2 separate regions of the Homo sapiens genome follow, and region 1 is linked to region 2. The links come from fine-mapping of genetic effects on gene expression. Tissue or cell type: putamen. Region 2 holds a variant in brackets; the other region holds the start of a gene. All regions are shown on one strand. Distances are between the middles of the regions.

Region 1 (8,000 bases), 220 kb after region 2:
TTTATTTTTTATTTTTATTTTCAGAAATGCTCTGGCTATGTTGCCCAGGCTTCTCTCAAACTCCTACCCTCAACTGATCCTCCCACCTCAGCCTCCCAAAGTGCTGGGACAGATTTTCTAACAAACCCCTTCATCATACGGATGAATAAGCTGAAGTTTACAGCCCTTATCCTTGTGACTGTCACTAAGTGGGTAATCAGTAACTACTTGCTCTTTTGTTTATGGCCTAAGTTGTTCAAAATGACCAGTCCATACTAGAATACAAGGTTCCTAATTTCAACACCAGTTTCTTTCACCTCAATCATACTGAGTGATGTGCTTTCATTGGGTCTACTATAAAAATCATTATAGCCATAAATTTTATTTATTTATGTATTTATTTGAGATGGAGTCTCGGTCTATCGCCCAGGCTGGAGTGCAATGGCATGATCTCAGCTCACTACAACCTCTGCCTCCCAGTTCAAGCGATTCTCCTGCCTCAGCCTCCCGAGTAGCTGGGATTACAGGTGCACGCCACCATGCCCGGCTAATTTTTGTATTTTTAGTAGAGATGGGGTTTCACCATGTTGGCCAGCTGGTCTCGAACTCCTGACCTCAAGTGATCTGCTCGCCTTGGCCTTCCAAAGTGCTGGGATTACAGGCATGAGCCACCACGCCCCACCAGCCATAACTTTTACTTCATATATTTTTTTAATAGCTTGAGATATAATTCACATACCATATGATTCACTCATTTAATGTGTAAAGTTGAATGTCTTTTAGCATATTTTCAGAGTTGTGTATTCACCATTATAATCAATTTTTAGAACATTTTCATTATCCTAAAAAGAAACCCCATACCTATTAGCAGGCACTCCCATTTCCCCTCATCTCACCCTCTCATGCCCCTGAGACCTAGCCAATCACTAAATTCACATTTCATACGAATGGAATTGTACAATATGTGGTCCTTTGTGACTGACTTCTTTCACTTAGCTTTTTCAAGATTCAGCTGTATCTCTGGGCATGGTGGCTCACGCCTGTAATCCCAGCACTTTGGGAGGCCAAGGTGGGTGGATCACCTGAGGTCAGGAGTTTGAGATCAGCCTGGCTAACGTAGTGAAACCCTGTTTCTACTAAAAATACAAAAAATTAGCCGGGTGTGGTGGCGCACACCTGTAATCCCAGCTACTCGGGAGGCTGAGGCAGGAGAATCGCTTGAACTTGGGAGGCGGAGGTTTCGGTGAGCTGAGGTTGCACCATTGCACTCCAGCTTAGGCAACAAGAGCGAAATTCCATCTCAAAAAAAAAAAAAAGATTCAGCTATGTCATGGCATGTACTTAAAATTTTTGTTTTCTTTTCTATTCTTTTTTTTTTTTTTTGGAGACGGAGTTTTGCTCTTGTTGCCCAGGCTGGAGTGCAATGGCTCGATCTTGGCTCACCACAACCTCCGCCTCCCAGGTTCAAGCGATTCTCCTGCCTCAGCCTCCTGAGTAGCTAAGAATACAGGTGCGGGCCACCACGCCCGGCTAATTTTGTATTTTTAGTAGATACAGGGTTTCTCCATATTGGTCAGGCTGATCTTGAACATCTGACCTCTGACCTCAGGTGATCCGCCCGCCTCGACCTCCCAAAGTGCTGGGAGTACAGGTGTAAGCCACCGTGCCTGGCCAAAAAAAATTTTTTTTTTTTTTTTTGTCAGGGATGAAGGTCTCACTATGTTGCCCAGGCTGGTCTCCAACTCATGGCACAAGCCATCCTCTTGCAAGTGCTGAGATTACAGGCGCGAGCCACCACGCCTACTCCCCTCCCCTCCAACGACTTTCTTTTTATTGCCAAATAATAGTCCATTGTATACCTATGTCACATTTTATCCATTCATCAGCTGATGGTTATTTAGCTGAATTTTATTTTAACTAAATGTTATCTCTGATAACTGGCAGAAGCTTAAAATCAAGACATAAGTGTGTATCTTTCTATGTTGAACGTATACCTAAAGAAGTATACTTATTAGGAATGACAATTAAAATCTCGTACTTGAAAAATCGATACTTTTTTCTTTTTTCTTTTTTTTTTTGAGATGGAGTCTCACTCTGTCGCCCAGGCTGGAGTGCAATGGTGTGATCTCTGCTCACTGCAACCTCCGCCTCCCAGGTTCAAGCTATTCTCCTGCCTCAGCCTCTTGAGTAGCTGGGATTATAGGTGTGCACCACCATGCCCGACTAATTTTTGTACTTTTTAGTAGAAATGGGGTTTCACCATATTGTTCAGGCTGGTCTTGAACTCCTGACCTTGTGATCCACCCGCCTCGGCCTCCCAAAGTGCTGGGTTACAGGCATGAGTCACCACGCCCGGCTGATACTTTTTTCTTTAAATTTTTTGATGTGTATGATAATATTGTGGAAAGAAAAAGTAAAGCCTTGCCCTATGTTTTTTGGCTCTTCTGATCCCCCAGGAAAAGAGAGGCATGCATATAGGTAGACCAGGTGAGTGACAGCCCTCAGGAAGAGAAAATAAAAGAGGAGAGATTCAGATCAAGACTTTTTCTAGTTTTCAAATATGAAAGGTTAAGAAGAGAAAGGGCATTTGCGGCTCACAGCCAACCAGCTGGTCGGCATTCCTACTACCCAAATATCTAAATGACATAAGGGTGAATGTGGGGTGAGGGTGAGAACGGGAAAAAACACAGGCCGCAAATTCAGTCCCATCTGGCACTTCATAAGACTTAGTATTTTCATCTTTGTCCTTCCAAATTTATAGGTTTACTCTTGCCCAACCTTCATATTGTTTTTATGGGTCTCCAGGTGGGTCATGCGTAGGAAACTTTAGGGGACTACTTCATACTTGGTGGGAAGTACTTAAACTTGTAAACCCCAAGCTAAGGGTAGTTATGATCCCGGTGGGTGGCCAATTCTCCCCTTAAACCTATGTTTATCCTGCCTTTCCTCCCCCTTTTCTTAAACGAGTCGGGACGGAGAGCTGAGTCACCTGAGACACAGAGAAGGGACTTTTGAGAGTGTCTTCCGTCCCATTTGCGGACGTTAGATGAGCACACCGGGATCCTTGACTCAGCCCGCTCTAGGCGTGGGCGTTGTGTCATTCCCCACACGTGACACTCTCCCAGGCGGCAGAAACCTCACTTGTCATGGGACTTATTCACTCCAGTGACTCCACCCCTTACCTCCTCTGTTCCCCAACCTCCCACTTACCCTTTCCGCCCCACTTCAAGACTTGAGGAGAGGAGGGTGGCTGGAGCCTGGAAATGTCCCCGTCCCAAGTTGGCCAGAAGTAGCAGACACACTATGTGGGAAAGTGCCACATGTAACGTTCCAGTTTCACCCTTCTCCAGAATGCTATCACCCTTCCTGTTTATTTTTTAATAACTTGAGATATAATTCACACGCCATATGATTCACTCACTTAACGTGTAAAGTTGAATGTCTTTTAGCATATTTAGAGTTGTGTATTCATCACTATAATACATTTTTTAGAACATTTTTATTATCCCAAAACGAAATCCCATACCTATTAGCAGTCACTCCCATTTCCCCTCATCTCACCCTTGCTCTTCCATAGCACAAAACAGTTCTATTCTATTCGAGACCACCTTTCCACTTGGGCAGACCCTGGTTATGGTTTTTTTTCCCTCCCTTTCTGTTTCCAGTTTTTTTCGGAGCCCGGAATTCTCAATCTGGGTAATTGGTTTGAGTCCCGGCTCAGCCCGTTTCCCGTTGTAGCTGCGTGACCTTGAGAGCAACGCCACTTTCCTGGGCCTAGTTTCTTTGTCTGTGAAACGAGGTCCAAATATCTACCTCTTTACGCCTGTTGTGGGGATGAAGTGAGTAGGTGCTTTGTGAGCTTTAAAAAGCCATAGAAATGCCAGCTAAGTTAACTCGTCACTCTTCCCGAACCCCTCCCTTTCCCCTGGGACCCGCCCCGCGAATCCCGCTGTGGATGGATACTTCTCCCCACCCGCCGACCGCAGTCTTTCCCATTGGCGCCCGCACCGTCTTCGCGGCGCCGGGTGTTGACGCCATGGCTTCCTCCGCCAGCGCCCGAAGACGCTTGGCCCCGCCCCCGGCCGCGCCTGGCCTCCCGCGGCGCCCCGCCCATCGGGCCGACGCGGCGCCGGCCCCGCCCCGCGGATGACGTGTGGCGCGCGCGGCCGGGCCGCCCCGGCAGTTGGTGCAGCGGCGGTTGGGGTGAGAGCGCCTACGCCACCCCTCCCCTCCTCCGGCCCCGGCCCCCACCCCGCCGGGCCCAGCCCCAGCCCCGGCCCGGGCTCCAGCCCTAGTACCCGTCCCAGCCCGAGTCGGGTCCGTCCCGTGCGGGCAGGTGCCGCCCCTCTGCCGGCGACGCCCCGGGCCGCCCGCCCGTCCGCTTGCCACCATGGAGCTGGAGGACGGTGTGGTGTATCAGGAGGAGCCCGGCGGCTCCGGGGCCGTGATGTCGGAGCGGGTGTCCGGCCTGGCCGGCTCCATCTACCGCGAGTTCGAGCGGCTTATCGGGCGCTATGACGAGGAGGTGGTCAAAGAGCTGATGCCGCTGGTGGTGGCTGTGCTGGAGAACCTGGACTCGGTGTTCGCGCAGGACCAGGAGCACCAGGTGGAGCTGGAGCTGCTGCGGGACGACAACGAGCAGCTCATCACCCAGTACGAGCGGGAGAAGGCGCTGCGCAAGCACGCTGAGGAGGTGAGGCCGGCGGCAGGGCGGGGGCCGCGGGATCCGTCTCCGGGGGCGGCCGGGGCGGGGTCGCGGCCCGGTCGGGGACTAGAGGCGCGACGGGCCTCCTGGAGGGCGGGCCTGAGGCCGATGCCCCCTGGGACCGATCCCGGCGGCCTCCAGGTACCCCGGGAGCCAGGCCGGCGTTGGAAGCCGAGGCCGGCTACTGAGTGTCCTGGGAAGGGAGCGAGATGGAGGAGGCAGGGCCCGGGGAGGAAGCGGCAGCCTGGCCTGAGGACACCTGGGGTTGGCCAAGGGCGGAGATTGTTGGGTGTCTGGTTGCTTCTTGTTGAGGGAAGTTTCCGACCACCGTGGGATAGTCAGATGGCGGTTCAAAGTTTTACCCTTGGGGAGGGGGACACTTCTGCCCTGGATATGTAACTTCCGCTAGTTCCAGTACCTTTCCAGGGGGTTGCCTTGCTTTGGGAAGTTAGAGATCTCCCTCTTTCGGTCAGTTTCTTCTTGACGTTTTAATCTTGTTGAGAAAGACGTCTTATTTTATGTTCTATGTGCCTTGGTTGACACTTTGTCAACTTTTAGATGTTGTGTGGCAGTACTCAATAAATATATAAACAATTTCGTTGGTATCCCAAACCAAAGCATTCCTCCGTATCAGGTTGTAACCTTGGACAGTTCCCTTCAAAAACCCTCCGTTTATTTATAAAAAGGATTGGGGGGCGGGGTTGGGAAGATGTAGGTGACAGTTGGCAACACTTTTTCCGTCTGAGTTTCCTTCTTAGACTGCTGTTTATACGTGCATTTGGCCACCTGTTAACTCTAGCACCCGAGCAGTGACCTGGGCGCCCTCACCTCGACTCTGTGAACCTTTTGGAGTTCTAGGGTGCAAGTGATAGGTCCTTGGCTTCTTGAGACTGACAAGGAGTTTAGCTTTCAGCCTGCGTTGGCGTTATTTCTGTGGACCTTATCAAAGGCAGGTGATGTGTCCTATTTTTGTTTCTCAAGCACCTAGCACACCTGCTTAAATACATGGTGATCAAAGGAGGCGAAATAACTAATTATTGAAGGAATGACATAGTATTTTTCAAAAAGACTTGAAGAGTTTTTAGGATGTGAGGTTTGTAGCTCATTTCCTGACACTGAATAGTAACACCATTAAATTTTTGTTTTATTTTGTCACGTATACCTTTGCATCTGGTTAAATAGTTCTTTTTCCTTTTTTAAAAGCTTGACTGTAGTGATGATTTTTAGTTCTGATTGTGGGATCCAATTTTCTCAAAGGAATGCTATTGAATTTGCCAAACAAAATTGCCTTTTTTTTTTTTTTTTTTTGAGACGTAGTCTCACTCTGTCGCCCAGGGTGAAGTGCAGTGGAGTGATCTTGGCTCACTGCAACCTCTGCCTGCCGGGTTCAAGCGATTCTTGTGCCTCAGCTTCCTAAGGAGCTAGGACAACACTCCCCGCTCATTTTTGTTTTTTGTAGAGACAGGATTTCTCCATGGTGCCTAGGATGGTCTTGAACTCCTGGCCTCAAGTGATCTGCCCACTTTGGCCTCGGGCTGACCATCCCAGTGCTGGGATTACAGGCATGAGCCACCGCACCCCGCCAGAATGGACTATTTCAAGAGCTTTTCCTTTCATATAGGGAAGGAAGGGATGAAAAACCAAATAATGATAGGATCACAATTTCCGCTTGTTTGTTAGCACTCTTTATAGAACAGAGGTCAAGTGCTACTTGCTGCTTCATGCTCATATAGCCCCTTGCCAGTGTGTGGATATACATGGAAGTGACTGGGAATTAACCACATGTACACACAGGTGACAAGCAAGCCTGACATGACCTTTTACCTCACGTAAAATAAATGCTCCCTCCAGCCTTAAACTCCTGTCAGTCCGTGTAAATATGGGCAAAATGCCAGGGTCACACGTGCCAAGAAAACCATCTGCCACAGGTTGCAGAATCAGAAAACAAAATTGCCCGACTGCTAGACTCTGGGTTCCCTATTAATTTCTTGAGTAAATGACTCTAAAAAAAATAGGTTATCCAATGAATTTATTTGTAGTTTATATTTTTTCAGTTACATCTGTAAATTCTCCATAGTGAAACCATTGGGCAAAGGGTCATGACCTGAGAACAGAGAACATTTATGAAATGCTAAATGAGCCCACTCCCAGGCCACAAACATAAACACACCTTGTTATCAGTTTTCTTTTCTCTTTTTTTTTTTTTTTGAGACAGAGTCTCTCTCTGTCGCCAGGCTGGAGTGCAGTGGCACGATCTCGGCTCACTGCCTCCCGGGTTCAAGCAATTCTTCTGCCTCAGCCGCCCGAGTAGCTGGGACTATAGGCACGTGCCACCCCGCCCAGCTAATATGTATATATATTTTGTATTTTAGTAGAGACGGGGTTTCACCTTGTTGCCCAGGCTGGTCTTGAACTCCTGAGCTCAGGCAATCCACTCGCCTCAGCCTCCCAAAGTACTGGGATTACAGATGTGAGCCACCACACCCGGCCATCAGTTTTCACATAAGATCATAAATTGTGTGTTGCTCAGTATCCAGAAATTGTCTCCCTTTGGCCAATATGTAGAGTGAATTCTGTGTTTAGTTTTCTGTGAGTGCTTTGTTTGCGCCTTTTTTTTTTTTTTTTTTTTTTTTGAGACGGAGTCTTGCTCTGTCACCCAGGCTGGAGTGCAGTGGCACAATCTTGACTCACTGCAGCCTCCGCCTCCCGGGTTCAAGCGATTCTGCCTCAGCCTCTTGAGTAGCTGGGATTACAAGCACGTGCCACCACGCCTGGCTAATTTTTTTGTATTTTTGGTAGAGACGGGGTTTCACCATTTTAGCCAGGATAGTCTCAATCTCCTGACCTCGTGATCTGCCCGCCTCAGCCTCCCAAAGTGCTGGGATTACAGGCATGAGCCACCGTGCCGGCCTGTTTGTGTCTTTAATGCGGAGACCAAGAGTCTTTTATACCAAAGTAAGTGCCTCAGGGTATTTACAGCAAAAGTGATTTGAAAGCATGGAAATTATCCATCACCAGAGAGAGTAAAGTAAATTCTGAGCACCTCTGTGGAAACTTAGGTGGGTATGTAGATAGAATGTTTTAGGAATGTGTGAGGTGCTATGATCTCTTGCTTGCAGGAATTCTCAGCAAGGCATCAAAAATTTAATCTTTATATTGATAGGACATATTTTGAATACCTTCTGACTTTTTCCTTTGCTTTTATTTGAATTTCTAGTGTGGAGCTAGTCTGCTGTTTTAGGGATTCTTTAAAAACAACCTAAAGAAGGGCTAATTTTAGATAGATTTGGACCGGTTTCAGATGCTAATCAAGAAA
Region 2 (8,260 bases):
AATAAATAACACAGCACCTCTCAAAAAGCCCATAGTCATGGGGAAATAGCTAGGTAAACAGGCAAGTGTTCTATGAAAAGGTATGTACCTTTAGATAAGGCAGGTGCTTGCATAAGATAAAAAGGCAACAGTGAGGAGGAAGATTTAGCCAGAAGGAGCCCACCCAGGAGGCTCACAGAAGAGGTGAAGCTTGAGGAAGGCATAGAACAAATGCAGTCAACCTGAGATCTTCTGGGGTCATGAGCAGGACAGAGATGTGGAGGAGAGGAGGCCTTTCTTGAATCAAAGAAAGCCATATTGGAAAATAGAAAGAATTTTCCGCTTCTGCCCTTCTTGTAGTGTTTTCCTGCCAGGTCACAGAATTTTTCATCACAGTGGAATCAAACATTCTTGGATTGGAAAGTGAGACAGCTCACTCATGCATGTTCTTTTAAAAGCATGTGACAATAAAACCAGTGACCTGGTTAACATCCTACATGGGTTGTCTTCTTTTCTTCTTTCTTCCTTTGCTTCCCTTTTACCTGAAAGGGACAAACATGATGTATACCACCACCATTCATAAATTAGGCAGCCACAAACCCTGAGCTGAGCAACTTTGGGGAAAGTATAAACTTTTTTTTTTTTTTGCAGTAATCACATGCATATGATAATCCAGGGACAAAGAAATTAGCAAACTCTTCCAGTTACACTCAAAACTCCAACCCTGGCATTTACTTGAAAATATTAAGTACCTTCAAGGCAAATCATTGAAGTGGCTGAGAAGTCTCTACTGCAACATTTAATGATGCTTATAAATCCTAAAACCCTCATGGGACCATTCCTGGCTGGTAATGGAACAGTGTTTGATGTTTCTGAAATTTTGAGTGTTTAATTATGTCTAACAAAGTTGGTTATCAATAAAGTGTGCATCCATGTCTGAACTCAATCCATCTTTTCCTGTCATTTAGGATGACTGGGAATCAGTTTGAATGGGGTTAGTGAGCTTTTTCTGTAAAAGCCCAGTTACTACATATTTTTAAGCATTGCTGTCCACAATGTCTCTGTGAAAACTATTCAACTCTGTCATGGTGGGGCAAAAGCAGCCAGAGGTAATCCATAAGTAAATGAGCAGATCTGTGTTCCAATAAAACTTATTAATGGACACCAAAATTTGAATATCAGTTTTCATGTGTCATGAAATATTATTATTCTTTTGATTTTTTTAACCATTAAAAAATGTTAAAAGGTCAGGTGCGGTGGCTCATGCCTGTGCCCTCATTTAATCTTCACCAAGGGCTTCTGATTATTCATTTTATTTTATTTTATTTTTATTTTTTTGAGAGAGGGTCTGGCTTTGCTGCCCAGGCTAGAGTGCAGTGGTGCAATCTCGGCTCACTGCAGCCAAGAAGGCCAAGGCTGGAGGACCACTTGAGCCTAGGAGTTCAAGACCAGCCTGGACAATAGTTTTTCTATTGATTTAATTTATGCTGTCAGAATTTATTATAACACTGTATATCAACTGTAGAAGTAAACATTTTAAAAAGTTTAATGCAGTAGGACTGCATTGAATGATTGTTATAGATCAGAATAAAGGAAATTTCTAAACTATGATTTAGTAGGTTAAATGTTGCTTTTATATTTATTCAATATTTATTCAAGACATATATTGACCACCTATTACGTGGTAGGCCCCTTACTCCGTACCGAGTATTCAACTTATATTTAATACCAAAGAAAGGAAATAATATTGAGAATATAGGCAAAATTATATCTTTCAAATTAAAGAAGTGCTGTTATCCACGGAATAGTTTCTCCATTTGTTTCAGGGATTCAGCTTATAAACAAAAGCCAGAGTAAGGAAATAATATCTAGAATGTGGAATAAATTACATATTTAAAATAAAGAAATGTAGGCTGGGTGTGGTGGGTCACGCCTGTAATCCCAGCACTTTGGGAGGCTGAGGCAGGCAGATAACTTGAACCCAGGAGTTCAAGACCAGCCTGGGCAACATGGTGAAACCCTGTCTCTCCAGAAAATACAAAAATCAGCTGGGCATGGTGGTGCTCACCTGTTTTCCCAGCTACTTGGGATACTGAGGCAGGAGGATTGCTTGAGCCTGGGAAGCCGAGGTTGCAGTGAGCTGAGACTGTACCACTGCACTTCAGTCTGGGCGACACAGTAAGACGCTGTATTTAAAAAAAAAAAAAAGTTATACTCAATGGATAGTTTGCCATTCAATTTAAAAATAACCTTGTCTCTACAAAAAAAAAAAAAATGTAGCTGAGCATGGTGGTGTGTACTTGTAGTCCCAGCTACTTCGGGGCCTGAGGTTGGAGGATCACTTGAGTCCAGGAAGTGAAGGCTGCAGTGAGCAGAGGTTGTGCCACTGCACTCCAGCCTGAGTGACAGAGCAAGACCGTCTCAAAAAGAGGAAAAAAAAATGTAAAAACCATTCCTAGATCACAGATCACACAGAAACAGGCAGTGTGGTGGATTTAGCCTGCAGTCTGTAGTATGCCGACCCCTGATTTTGAATGTTTGGGCTGCACTGGAAGAGTATGAAGAACATAAACTTAGACTTCCACAATCCTTACACCTGGGCAGCCAAGCAAAATCCTTAAGCTCCCTGGGTCTCCATTTCTTCTCTCTAAAATGAACAATCAGGCCAGACGTGGTAGCTCATGCCTATAATCCCAGCACTTTGGAAAGCTGAGGCAGATGGATCTCTCGAGCTCAGGAGTTGGAGACCAGCCTGGGCAACATGGCAAAACCCCATCTCTACTAAAAATACAAAAAATTCGCCAAGCGTGGTGGCATGTGCCTATGGTCCCAGCTACTCTGGAGGCTGAGATGGGAGGATCGCCTGAGCCCAGGAGGGAGAGGCTGCAGTGAGCCAAGATTGTGCCACTGCACTCCAGCCTAGATGACACAACCAGACCCTGTCTCAAAAAAATTAAAAGAAAAATAATAAAATGGGCTGTATGCAGTGGCTCATGCCTGTAATCCCAGCACTTTGGGAGGCCAAGACGGGCAGATCACCTGAGGTCGGGAGTTTAAGACCAGCTTGGCCAACATGGTGAAACCCCGTCTCTGCTAAAAAAAAAAAATATATATATATATATATATATATATATATTTTAGCTGGCATGGTGGCACACGCCTGTAGTCCCAGCTACTCGGGAGGCTGAGGCAGGAAAATCACTTGAATCTGAGAGGCAGAGGTTGCAGTGAGCCAAGATCACACCACTGCACTCCAGCCTAGGTGACAGCAAGACCCTGTCTCAAATAAATAAATAAATAAATAAAATAATCGGAGGCTCTTGATGAAGACTAAATGAGGTGATATATGTATAGCAGAGAGATGTTCAGGAAGAATCCAGAAGGTTCAAGCTCAGGAGGGATCTGAGTGTTCTGTAAATGCCAGCTCTCTCTCTCCCCTACTTTCTAAGTGTCTTACTACCAGTGTTTTTTGTTTAATCCTCTATCTTTGTATCTAATCTTCCCTTGTAGCAACTGATTAAGTAATGAAGCATGAGAACAGATTTGCTCCTAACAGGAGGAAAACCAGCCCCGTCCCTTGTTGACTTGAGCCCTCCCAGGCTGACACTTTTCCTCTTGGTGTGGGTGGCCTAAGCCCGGTCCTGGAGGGCTGGGTTTTAACTACTATTAAATATCAGGGAGAAACTAATGAAGCCACAATTGATTAATCAAGCTGGATCCCATCTCCCTGTGAAAGTGCCCCATTAGAGATTCAGGGTCTCTTTGAGGGGATTTACAGCGGCTGCAAATATCAGTGGCAATTATATGCATCTCATCTTTCTTATCAAGCAGCCACCTTCTCCTCTCCCTCCCTCAAGTGCCCCAAGGCTTACCAATCACAAGCACCACAGGTCACAGCATCCTCCACCAGACTCGGTGTGTCCCATGGGCTGGGTAGTGGTGAGGGAGCATCTCTCCCCAGCATGAAAGGAAAATCCCAGAAGAAGTAAGGAAGCCAGAGCTTCCTGAGAGCTGGAGAGTGGAATCCAAGTGGGATCTTCAAGATCACCTGAAGCTGATTCTTTCTAACTGTGAAACTATCCAGAAGTTATTTTAAAGAGGTATGCTCTGACCTACTGCTTCTTGAAGAACAGGATCAGAAATCCTCTCATTTCAAATGCTCCATATCTGTATTAGTCAAGGTTCCCCAGGCAGACAGAACCAGTAGGATATATGAAAAGAAAGGTATTAGGGGGCATTGGCCCTTGTGATTACAG[A/C]GGTGGAGAAGTCCCATGATAGGCCATCCACAAGCTGGAGAATCAGAGAAGCCCGTAGCATGCCTCAGTCCAAGTCCAGAAGCCTCAGAATCAGGGAGGCCAACAGCACAGACCTTCGTTGGAGGCTGAAGGCCTGAGGGCCCCGGGAGGCCATTGGTACAAGTCCTAGAATCCAAAAGCCAAAGACCCTGTAGTCTGATGTCCAAGGAGAAAAGGCATCCTGCTCCAGAAAGGTGGGAGAGAGAATCCTCCTTCTTCTGCCTGTTTGTCCCCAGCCTGGCCTTGAGCTGATTGGACAGTGCACACTCACACTGAGAACGGGTCTCCTTCTCAGCCCGCTGGCTCACATGTGAGTCTCCTCTGGAAACACTCTCACAGACACACCCAGGAATGATGGACGCCACCAGCCACTGAGGCATTCCTCAACCCAGTCAAGCTGATACCCTAAAATTAACCATCACAGTCTCAGATCTTAAGAATGCCCAAGGACATCTATTCCGGCTGGCCAGTATGCTAAAGTTGATTGGTGCCATTGGGAAGAGCTGATGAGATGCACTAGAGATGACGCAGCTTTAGAGTTAGGAATCGGTGTCCAGATTTCTGCCTCTTCCTGCCTTCTGATGCTGAACTTGCCTCTCTGATCCTCAGTATCTAAACCTCTAATGCCATGGGAAGATGGAGATCATAGCTCCTAATGTTAACCAAGGAGACAGCATCTGTTGAGCTTTTGGGTTTTCCTATGAGTACTTCTTCCAGGAAAGCCCATCAAACCTTCCTCTACAAAGGTTTATTCCTCCAGTGAGCTCTGCAAGGGCAGAGAGTGCCTCGTGCCCCTCACTATCCCTAGCAGCCAGCTGGGTGCAGGACCCAGCAAGTGCTCAGTAAGCATCTGCAAAGCAATGACAGCATGCCTGGAATCTACTGAGAGAAGAAATCAAATGGCCATTGTTCACAGTTGGCCAGGTCTGCCATAACAAAGTACCACAGGCTGGGTGGCTTAAACAACAGAATTTATTTTCTCACAGATTGGGAGGCTAGAACTCTGAGAGTTGGTTTCTTTGGTGGCCTCTCTCTTTGGCTTGCTGTGTGTCCACATGATCATCTCTCTGCCTGTGTGTTTTCTGTGTCCTAATCTCTTGTAAACACACCAGTCATATTGGTTAGGACCCACCACATGAGCTCATTTTATCTTAATGACATTTTTAGTGGCCCTATCTCCAAATACATTCACATTCCAAGGTACCAGGGATTAGAACATCAATATGAATTTTAGGGGGACACAGTCACTGCCTACATCCCCATCCTTCTGCTTTGCCCTTGTAGCTTCGCTTCCTGGGTTCTCCATGCAAGGCCAAGGGTGGAGACGCCACACCTGGATACAGCCACCTCAGAACCCACCATTCAGAAAGGCCTCTGCAAGTGACTTGGATCCCTGACAATTACTCCCTTGTGCCTCTGACCACGTGTCCTTGTTCCTAGAAGCAAGCATGGGGTAGCTGATAGGACCTCTTGTAGATTCCGCTATGTCCTCTTCTCCATGGGCAAACTCTTTACCTTCTTGAAGGCCTGTGCTCTCACCCTTCACCCCCTCAGCCCCACCTTGGTCCACCACTGCAGGGTCAGACCCTCCTGGACCCAACACCAGCCTGAAGTCCACAGACCCCGGCAGAGACACACCCCTTTGGTGTCAGGCTCCCACTGCCCTGACTACTGGTTTGTCCCTGGCCCCTGAGATTCATCTGCTCTCTTTATCTCCTGTCCGTTCACCTGCACTCCTCTGCACTGGGATAAATTTTGAAGAGCTAACTAGTATGTTTTCCCCACCATCCATTTTTTCCTAGTCAGCCCTCCCTACCACAGCTTCTCTTACATCCATCCCCCGTGCCCGCCACATCTTCATCTGTCCCAGCAGAAGGGGAGGAAGAAAATCTGCTTTCTGCTGATCACACCTTCTTCCCAAATCTTTCTACTTTATAACTGCTTCTGTGGCTCTGGAACTTAATGGGTAATAATTTGCCACCTCTTTTCTCTGTTCTGCCCAATGCTGGTCTCCTCGCTGGTCTCCTCCCTCTTGGGGAGAATCAAAGGGCCTGGATAAACAGGGCGTGTGCAGAAACCGCACTGATGAGTTTCTTACCCACCACCCTCCCTGCCACACACACATCTGAGGGCCTTGGTTTCTGATCCCACCTCACTCCCTTGGCCCCTGTCATGGGCTAAATGTTTGTGTTTCCCAAAAATTCATATATTGAAATCCTAACCCCCAAGGGGATAATGGAGGTGGGGCCTTTGGGAGTAATTAGGTCATAAGGGTGGAGCTGTCATGAATGGGATTAGTGCCTCATAAAAGAGACCCCAGAGAGCTCTCTAGCTCTTTCTGCCATGTGAGGATAAGAAGTCAGCAGTCTGCAACCCAGAAGAGGGCCCTAACCAGAAAGTTGTTGTGGCCCTGATCTGACTTCCAGCCTCCAGAACTATAAGAAGTCAATGTCTGTTGTTTACAAGCCACTCTGTCTTGACTTTTGTTACAGGAGCCCAAATTAACTAAGATAACCCTATCTGAGACTGGGCACAGTGGCTCACGCCTGTAATCCCAGCACTTTGGGAGGCTGAGGAAGGCAGATCTACAAGGTCAGGAGTTTGAGACCAGCCTGGCCAACATGGTGAAACCCCATCTCTACTAAAAATACAAAAATTAGCCAGGCACGGTGGTACACGCCTGTAATCCCAGCTACTCAGGAGGCTGAGTCAGGATAATTGCTTGAACCTGGGAAGCAGAGGCTACAGTGAGCCAAGATTGTGACACTGCACTCCAGCCTGGGCAACAGAGCAAGACTCTGTCTCAAAAAAAAAAAAAAAAAAACCCATCTGGAGAAAACTAAAAAGCTCAGTCTTTCCCCTGGGCCCAGAATGCCCTTCTTCCCCTGCCCTAGGAAAGCCCAGTCACCTCTGAGGAGGCAGCAACATCCTGGCTCCTCCCACTTGCTTTCAGTGCATCCCCACGTCCATTCTCTCATGGAACCCTGTGCACATCTCTATCTGAGCACCCGTAAGACTGTGTTCTGCTAGCTCATGTGTTCATCATCTCCGTGTTGACTGTAAACTTCACTTTGTACCTTGTCCCCCAGAATCCAGCACCGAATCTGGCACACTGAATGAATGAATGAGTGAATCAAAGAATGAGTGGGCAAGTAAGTGAATAAATTAACGAGCTTCCCTGGAGTGATGACATAGAATTGTTTCTTAATTATTTTATAGGTTTCTCCTCTTTCCAGCTTCTATATCACAACAGGATGATTCTAAAGGGCCATCCCAGCTTCAGAGTTCCCTGGGGGCTAGCTGAGGCTTTCACTGGGACTTCATCAGTGCTCAGCTTCTTCATCTGCCCCATCCTGCTTCCAACTCATTCTTTCCACAGGTGTTGATCCGAAGCACATTCCTCGTAAATCTCCTGCATACAAATCTCCATCTCAGAGCTAGCTTCTGGGAACCCTCATGCTACAAGTCATTAGGAACATGGATTTTGGACACTTCTAACAAGCCTGAGTTTTAGTCCTGGCTCTTGTACTTACTTGCACTGTAACCTAGAGAAAAATTACCTAACTTCTCAGAGGCTTCATCTGCAATAGAAATGAATTCATTGAGTCGTGGGAGTTCAATGAAATGTTGTTTGAAGCACATTTAGCACAGCACCCGGTACACTGATAAGTGCTCACTAAAGGATTACTTGTATCATCATCAATATTGCATGGTCCAAGGCACATGGCAAGGCTATGGAACACACAGAAGCCAACTAGATTGGCTACAAGGCCAGCCTCAAGAGAGGTAGGTCCACTCTGGCTTTCAAGAGGTGGTGGTTGGGCCTGTAGTCATATGGTAGTGGTACCTGGAGTGTGCATGCACCATGGGCTGTATGATGGGTTCTTTGGGAGTTGGTGGGATTTCAGAATGAAGTCTATAGTCCAGGTACTCCACCAGTCCTCAAGCAAGTTCCATGCATCATGGGGAACTAGAATTTAATCAGC

Alleles and levels. Alleles are on the strand shown, and positions count from the first base shown. SD is a standard deviation of normalised expression in the study named.
For the expression in putamen of the gene that starts at base 4,158 in region 1, A is the low allele of the variant in region 2 and C is the other (moderate effect, 0.41 SD a copy in GTEx).

What was found. PIP is the estimated chance that this variant, and not a neighbour inherited with it, causes the effect.
Region 1: it holds the start of SPAG9, and the variant in region 2 is fine-mapped to the expression of SPAG9 in putamen (GTEx, PIP 0.95).

The regions. Positions count from the first base shown.
Region 1 is chr17:51,117,026-51,125,025 of GRCh38, reverse strand. SPAG9 (sperm associated antigen 9) reads left to right here and starts at 4,158. Exons shown (of 30, transcript NM_001130528.3): 1 at 4,158-4,672. The coding sequence starts at 4,370. RefSeq lists enhancers at 2,807-3,066, 3,676-3,905, 3,422-4,236, 4,526-4,645 and silencers at 4,046-4,425, 4,676-4,755, 4,776-4,905.
Region 2 is chr17:51,333,512-51,341,771 of GRCh38, reverse strand. LINC02071 (long intergenic non-protein coding RNA 2071) reads left to right here and starts at 6,610. Exons shown (of 6, transcript NR_110751.1): 1 at 6,610-7,426; 2 at 7,654-8,060. It overlaps LINC02072 (long intergenic non-protein coding RNA 2072), which reads right to left and starts at 5,057. Exons shown (of 3, transcript NR_122104.1): 1 at 3,852-5,057; 2 at 2,048-2,165; 3 at 1-521. The variant A/C (reference allele first, on the strand shown) is at 4,236.